2 linked regions of the Homo sapiens genome follow. The protein of the gene in region 1 interacts with the protein of each later gene in a pairwise test. Each region holds a gene or a part of one and is shown on either strand. Other genes may lie near its edges.

Evidence for each region.
Region 2: the proteins of PPP2R5B (region 1) and DZIP1 interact in a two-hybrid assay, tested with the Homo sapiens proteins (one study listed by IntAct).

What each region holds. Positions count from the first base shown.
Region 1 is NC_000011.10:64,927,689-64,931,188, reverse strand, and holds part of PPP2R5B (serine/threonine-protein phosphatase 2A 56 kDa regulatory subunit beta isoform), read right to left. Parts: intron 3,388-3,500; coding exon 3,286-3,387; intron 3,124-3,285; coding exon 3,031-3,123; intron 2,895-3,030; coding exon 2,764-2,894; intron 868-2,763; coding exon 808-867; intron 709-807; coding exon 600-708; intron 1-599. UniProt on the Homo sapiens protein: As the regulatory component of the serine/threonine-protein phosphatase 2A (PP2A) holoenzyme, modulates substrate specificity, subcellular localization, and responsiveness to phosphorylation.
Region 2 is NC_000013.11:95,638,207-95,641,706, forward strand, and holds part of DZIP1 (cilium assembly protein DZIP1), read right to left. Parts: coding exon 3,089-3,500; intron 1-3,088. UniProt on the Homo sapiens protein: Molecular adapter that recruits protein complexes required for cilium assembly and function to the cilium basal body.

The DNA of each region.
Region 1 (3,500 bases):
CCATAATATGGCTAGTGTGGTGGCTCACGCCTGTAATCCAAGCACTTTGGGAGGCCGAGGCAGCAGAATCACTTGAGCCTGGGAGTTTGAGACCAGCCTAGGTAACATAGCAAGACACTGTCTCTACAAAAAAAAAATTTTTTTTAATTAGCCAGGCATGTGGCACATACATCTGTGGTCCCAGCTACTCGGGAGGCTGAGAAGGGAGGACTGCTTGAGCCCAGCAGGTAGAGGCTTCAGTGAGCCATGTTCATACCACTGCTCTCCAGCTGAGGCAACAGAGTACGGTTTTGTCTCAAAAAAAAAAATTGTGTATCAAAATCTCCCATAATAGATTTGTGTATCCAAATATTTGGGAATATAGATGGAGAAGAATGTAATTCTGCCAAGGGAGGGTAGAGAAGAAAAGCCTGGCTTCACAGAGCTGATATCTGAGGTTAGCCTTAAAGCGCCAGTGGGAATTTTCTAAGGTAGATGGAACAGAATTATAAAGACAAAGAAGGTGAGATAGGATCCCTGGAGGATCTGACCTCCAGGACCCACTGGCTGCCCTGACTGTCTGGAGCTCCTGCTGCAGCAGGGACAGGCCTGGGCCTCACCTGGGCATGGAAGACAGACAGCGACTTGACAGAGTGCAGGGGGATCAGGACGCGAACCAGGAACTGCTTGTGCTCCGTCTTCAGGGGCAGCGCAAAGCCATTGATGATGCTGAGGAGGAGGCAGAAGAGAGGAAGAGGGCTCAGGTGACCTGGCCCCAGTCCCTCCTTCCAGAATCCTGAGCTCCAGCTGAGGCCCAGGGAGAATCACCTTCCTAGGATCTCCAGCAGCTCAGCCACACCATTGAAGTGCTCGAATTCATAGATGAACCTGCAAGAGAAGAACGCAGGTGGGCTCAAAGCAAGCAGGGTAGGCCCAGTGCCCCCTTAGGCATCCTGCCTGCCCACCCTCACCTGCACGGCACGCTCATCCAACTCTCCCCCAACCCAGAGGCTGCGCTCCCTTCCCAACATCCCAAACCAGGCCCCATTGAGATCCCCGCCCCCCCACACTGAAATGCCCTTCTCAGCCCAGCCACCTCTGCCACTGAGTCCCAAGCTCAAGGCTCTCTTGCCAGTCAACCAAGAGAATGACAAACACTTAGCACATCTACTCCGTACCATGTAAGTCTCAGAATTATCCAGGGAGATGGGGCTTAAGAAATCCATCACATGGATGAAGAAATCAAGACTCAGCGGTTAAATAAAACAACCCCAATGTTAATAGGCAGGGAATCTAATGAACTCCAAGGTGCAGGAGGACAGGGATCATGGCTCACCCATTTTGTAGCTAATAACAACTAATGTTTCAGAGTCCCGGCCTCAGTCCAGGAGCTATGCTGAGTGCTTTGCAGGCAAGGCCCCATGTCACCTCGATAATGGTCCCTGAGTTAGTACAAGCAGCATCCCCATTTTTATCTTATCTTTGAGATGGAATCTCGCTCTGTCGCCCAGGCAGGAGTGCAGTGGCGCAATCTTGGCTCACTGCAACCTCCACCTCCCAGGCTCAAGCGATTCTCCTGCCTCAGCCTCCTGAGTAGCTGGGATTGCAGGTGTTTACCACCACACTCAGCTAATTTTTGTATTTTTAGTAGAGACGGAGTTTCACCACGTTGGCCAGGCTGATCTTGAACTCCTGATCTCAAGTGATCTGCCCACCTCCAACTCCCAAAGTGCTGGGATTACAGGCATGAGCCACTGCACCCAGCCAGCATTCCCATTTTAAAGACGAGCAAACTAGGAGAGAGCTTAAGTAATTTGCCAAAGTTCACCCAAACGTTGGAACCAAACTCAAATGTAGGCCATACAGCTTCAGAGCCATGGTCTCAACTACAAGGCCACGTGAGCCTTGATGCCCAGTGGGTGCTGGTGCTCAGTGCATGTTTGCAGAAAGAATCTCTCTCTGGGTCCTTATGGCCTGGCATGATAAGGGTCAAATGATTTAGCTCCTAGGCCCCTGGACTGACCCAGTCCCTGCAAACCATTTCATCTCTCTTGGCCTCTACTTTCTCATCTGTAAAATGGAAATAAATACCCATTCTCTGTCAACTTCACAGGCTTTGTATAATCAATATGTAATACGTTACTGAGAAAGGGCTTGGAAAACAGAAGTTCTACAAGGGCCCCTGCAGCCCAGGAGCCTTTGCTGCAGTCTTCTTTTTTTTTGTTTTCTTTTCTTTTTTTTTTTGAGACACAGTCTCCCCGTTGCCCAGGCTGGAGTGCAGTGGCATGATCTCGGCTCACTGTAAACTCCACCTCCTGGGTTCATCCGTCTCGCTCTGTCGCCCAGGCCGGACTGCGGACTGCAGTGGCGCAGTCTCGGCTCACTGCAAGCTCCGCTTCCCGGGTTCACGCCATTCTCCTGCCTCAGCCTCCCGAGTAGCTGGGACTACAGGCGCCCGCCACCGCGCCCGGCTAATTTTTTGTATTTTTAGTAGAGACGGGGTTTCACCTGGGTTCAAGTAATTCTTGTCTCAGCGTCCCAAGTAGCTGGAATTACAGGTGCCCACCACCATGCCTGGCTAATGTTTGTATTTTTATTAGAGACGGGGTTTCACCATGTTGGCCAGGTTGGTCTCAAACTCCTCACCTTAGGTGATCCACCCACCTCGGCCTCCCAAAGTGCTGGGATTACAGGTGTGAGCCACCGCACATGGCCTTTGCCGCAGTCTTCTAACAGCCCTCTCACCCTCCCCAGGTCTCTGCTGGGCAGGCAGCAGCCACTCACCGGAGGAAGATGTGGTTGCACTGTTTGCGGATGTAGGCCCGGAGACCCAGGAACTTGCCATAGACCCGGTGCAGGATGGTCTTGAGGTACTCACGCTCCCGGGGATCCTCACTATCAAATAGCTCCAGGAGCTGTGGGAACCAGAGTCAGGGTCAGGGTCAGGGTCAGGGGAAAGGTCCACCCCAGGTTGCTTCCATCCTATCCCTGGCCCCTCAGAGAGCCTGCCCCTGCCTTGTGGTACCACCCAGCCTGGGCTCCCCACTTCACCATCAGGACAAACTTTTGATCCACATATCTCTTGGCCACGGAGGGCTGGAAGTCTGGGCTCTCCAAGAAACGCAGGAAAAACTCATATACCAGCTGGGGGAGGGGGACAGACAAAAAGGTGAGTTCAGTAACAGCCTCACCCACTCATTCCACCCTATGGCCCTCATCCAACTGTCTAGGGGCTAAGGAGGCCCTCTCCCCATGCCTTGGATCTCTTCTGAAACTTGGATCTCTGTCTTCCCCAACCCTTCAGACCTGCAGGTGTGGCCACGAAGGCTCAAGATTGGGCTCATCCTCTTCAGGGTCAAATTCAGGGTTCTCACTGGGCGGCAGAGTCCGGAAGATATTCACTGAGATCTGAGTGGCAGAGTTGGGGTTCATTAAGGAAAAGCCCTTGAAGACAGAAGCCAGGGAGTCTCTCATTCAAAGCTTTTTTTTTTTTTTTCTTTCCCAAGACAGGGTCTCGCTCT
Region 2 (3,500 bases), on another chromosome or scaffold:
AGCCTCCCAAGTAGCTGGGATTACAGGTATGCGCCACCACACCTGGCTAATTTTTGTATTTTTAGTAGAGATGGGGTTATACCATGTTGGCCAGGCTTCTCTTGAACTCCTGATCTCAGATGATCTGCCTGCCTTGGCCTCCCAAAGTGCTGGGATTACAGGTGTGAGCCACTGCGCCCAGCCTAACCTGAGTTAAATCTAAGAGGTGGGTATATGGTATGTCTTACATTAGTCTATGCACTTTTTTGTATGTTTATAATATTTCAGTACTAATTTTTATTTGAAAATCGATGAGATTTTTCTTTTAAAATCCCCCATATATGGGTATTCACTATATTGTTGTTTTAATTTTTCTGCATTTTAAATTTTTTAAATAAAATATTGAGGAAAAAGACCTTACACATTGCCATCACTACCCCCCTTATACACAACACACACACACACACACACACACACGCACACCCCATGGGGGAAAAAACCCATTAGGATGCGTGCGTGTGTGTGTCTGTCTGTCTGTGTCTTCAAGCCTTCAAGAACAGGCATCTTTAATTTTTTTTTGTCTCAGCTACTCAGTTCTTATGATTTCTTAAAGCAAAGGGAGTAGAGACAAAGAGAAGTGGTATGAGAATGAGAATGAGACCACAATTTCTCAAAGGTAAAACTGATAATGCGGTGGACCCAATCATTGTGTCAGAACAAGGAGTCTAGGCTTTGGATTTTCTGTATAGGGGAAGAAAGAAAAACTCACATGATAGCAGTCATATGATTGTTCACATTTTGTAGTAAGTCAGCTTTAGTATTTGTCATGCCACAAAACGTTTTTCCCTCATTCCCAGGTATTAGCTAAAACAATAACTAACTACATGCCAAGCACTGCTCTAAGCACAGTCTATGCACTAAGTCATTCAATCCCCATTAACAACTGCTATATGGTAGGTACAATTAATATTCCCATTTCACAGAGTAGAAACTGAGGCACAGGGAGGTTGAGCAACTTGCCAAGGTCTGGTAGCTGAAAAAGTAGTAGGTGTCACTCATTTGATAAATTGAGTCATTACCTTTTAATCATTACTTATCATTCACATTTGAAAATCTTCTCTTAGGCCAGGTGTGGTGGCTCACGTCTGTAATCCCAGCATTTTGGGAGGCTGAGGTGGGTGGATCACTTGAGGTCAGGAGTTTGAGACCAGCCTGGCCAACACGGTGAAACCTCGTCTCTACTAAAAATACAAAAATTAGCTGGGCATGGTGGTGCACACCTGTAGTCCCAGCTACTCAAGAAGCTGAGGTGGGAAAATCGCTTGAACGCGGGAGAAGGAGGCTGCAGTGAGCCAAGACCGCACCCCTGCACGCCAGCCTGGGCGACAGAGTGAGACTCCATCTCAAAAAAAAAAAAAAAAAGAGAGAGAGAGAGAAAGAGAAAGAAAGAAAATCTTCTCTTATAACAGCCATTTCTATAGTAACCCCAAAAAAGGAAAAAAAAGTTTATAAACATACAATTTCTGTATGTTAGAGGTTTTAACATTTCACTAGATGGCTGCTAAAGCTGGACTATAATAAATCTTTAAAAATGTTTAAATAGAATCCATTATATTCGTTGCACAAGAAAAAAACCATCTTAGCACTATTTGTAAATATTTAATTTTTAAGCAGCATTTATAAAACAAATAAGCAATTAGCAATGCCCAGTGTCATTTGAAGATTATACCTCAGGGTTGTCTACCCAAGACCAAACACTAAGTCCTTCTAATAATATTCCTAATTGTTCCCTTATCTTTTTTATTTTTATTTATTTTTTTTTTTTTGAGATAGATTCTCACTCTGTTGCCAGGCTGGAGTGCAGTGGCGCTATCTTGGCTCACTGCAACCTCCGCCTCCTGGGTTTAAGCGATTCTCCTGCCTCAGCCTCCCAAGTAGCTGGGACTACAGGCACATGCCACCAAGCCCAGCGAATTTTGGTATTTTTAGTAGACACGGGGTTTCACCATGTTAGCCAGGATGGTCTCGGGTCTCAATCTCCTGACCTCGTGATCCGCCCGCCTCGGCCTCCCAAAGTGCTGGGATTACAGGTGTGAGCCACTGCACCCGGCCACTGTTCCCCTATCTTAAGAACACTCAACACTCCTGCTGGGTCAGTCCTGAGCAATATTAACTGCACCATTTTCTCTGCCCTGCACCCAGTTCTCTCCAGCATTCATGCATCAGCTCCACTATTCCTAAATCCAGTGAGGCCTTTTAAGCCATAGTCAGCCGAAAGGACTAGAAAGTAAGGGCATGACATCAATCTTGTTAATCTGTTGCTTACTTCAATATCTTTCTCAATCATTGTTTATACCTTCTGCACTTCCTCCAACTAGTCAATAAAAAAAAAATACATTGGTTTATGTTATACTCAAAAATTGCAATATTTATCTTGGACTCAATGTCTAACCCAAAACAGTAGAAGATTAAGACCAGAAGATAAAAATATTTTATTCTTTAAATACTGTTATGTAAGTGAATGTTCTTGTTCTTAGAAAATATACACATCGAAATATTTAGGATCTGCAACTCACTGTGAAATGGTTCAAAAGTAATAATAATATGTATACAGAAATAGAGGGACTGTGGAAAATGTTAATAATGGGGGAATCTGGGTGAAGGGCGCATGAAAATTCCTTACAGTCTCCTGGCAACTTTTCTGTCAGTTTGAAAGTATTTCAAAATTTATAAAAATGAGAAAAAGACCCTACAAATTTAAACATTCTGCATCGTTTGGGGACTGGCTTCAACAGCAATTTGTATATGGTTTTTTCATGTTGAGGTTGATTCGGAGGAGGAAAGTGTTTCAACAACCAGCATTTAGATAACTTCCATAAAGCACCACAGACGACATTTGTTGTTTAATTATTAATCCCCTGATTGTCTGCAGAAGGTAATGAACCATGACATTTGTTGGTTAAATGACTGTTTTTGCTTAAATATACTGTGTCTTCTGATATACAATATAAATCTTTAAGAAGAAAGAGTGGTGATACGGGACAGGCCTATCAAATGGGAACTGAGTTGTTTACTGGATTATGAATCGTGCTCACACACAGCTGCCCACCTGGTAATAGTTGGCTTTGGCCTCGATCATCAGCTGCTGGGTGGAGATCATCTTCTTCCGGCGTTTGCACTCTTCCTTGAGCGTCTTGATCTCCCCCGCCTGCTTGGTGAGCAGCTTCTTGCTCTGCTCGCCGTCGCAGTGGCTCAGGCGCAGCCGCTCCTCCAGGGTGTGCAGCTGCGAGGTGAGGAACTCTTGTGAGTGCAGCAAGTACTCGATGGTGAACTGCGCCAGACGGATGAGCTTCAGCAGCACCGGGTCCACCCCCGACTGGCAGTGTGGGCACTTCTCGTCTTCCAGCTTGCAGAAGGTGATGTTCATGATGTTCTCCTGCAGCGTCAGCACGTCCACAGCCCCCGCCACCTTGTCCACGTCGATGGCGCTCAGCCGCCGCCAGTCCACACTCTCCAGCCGC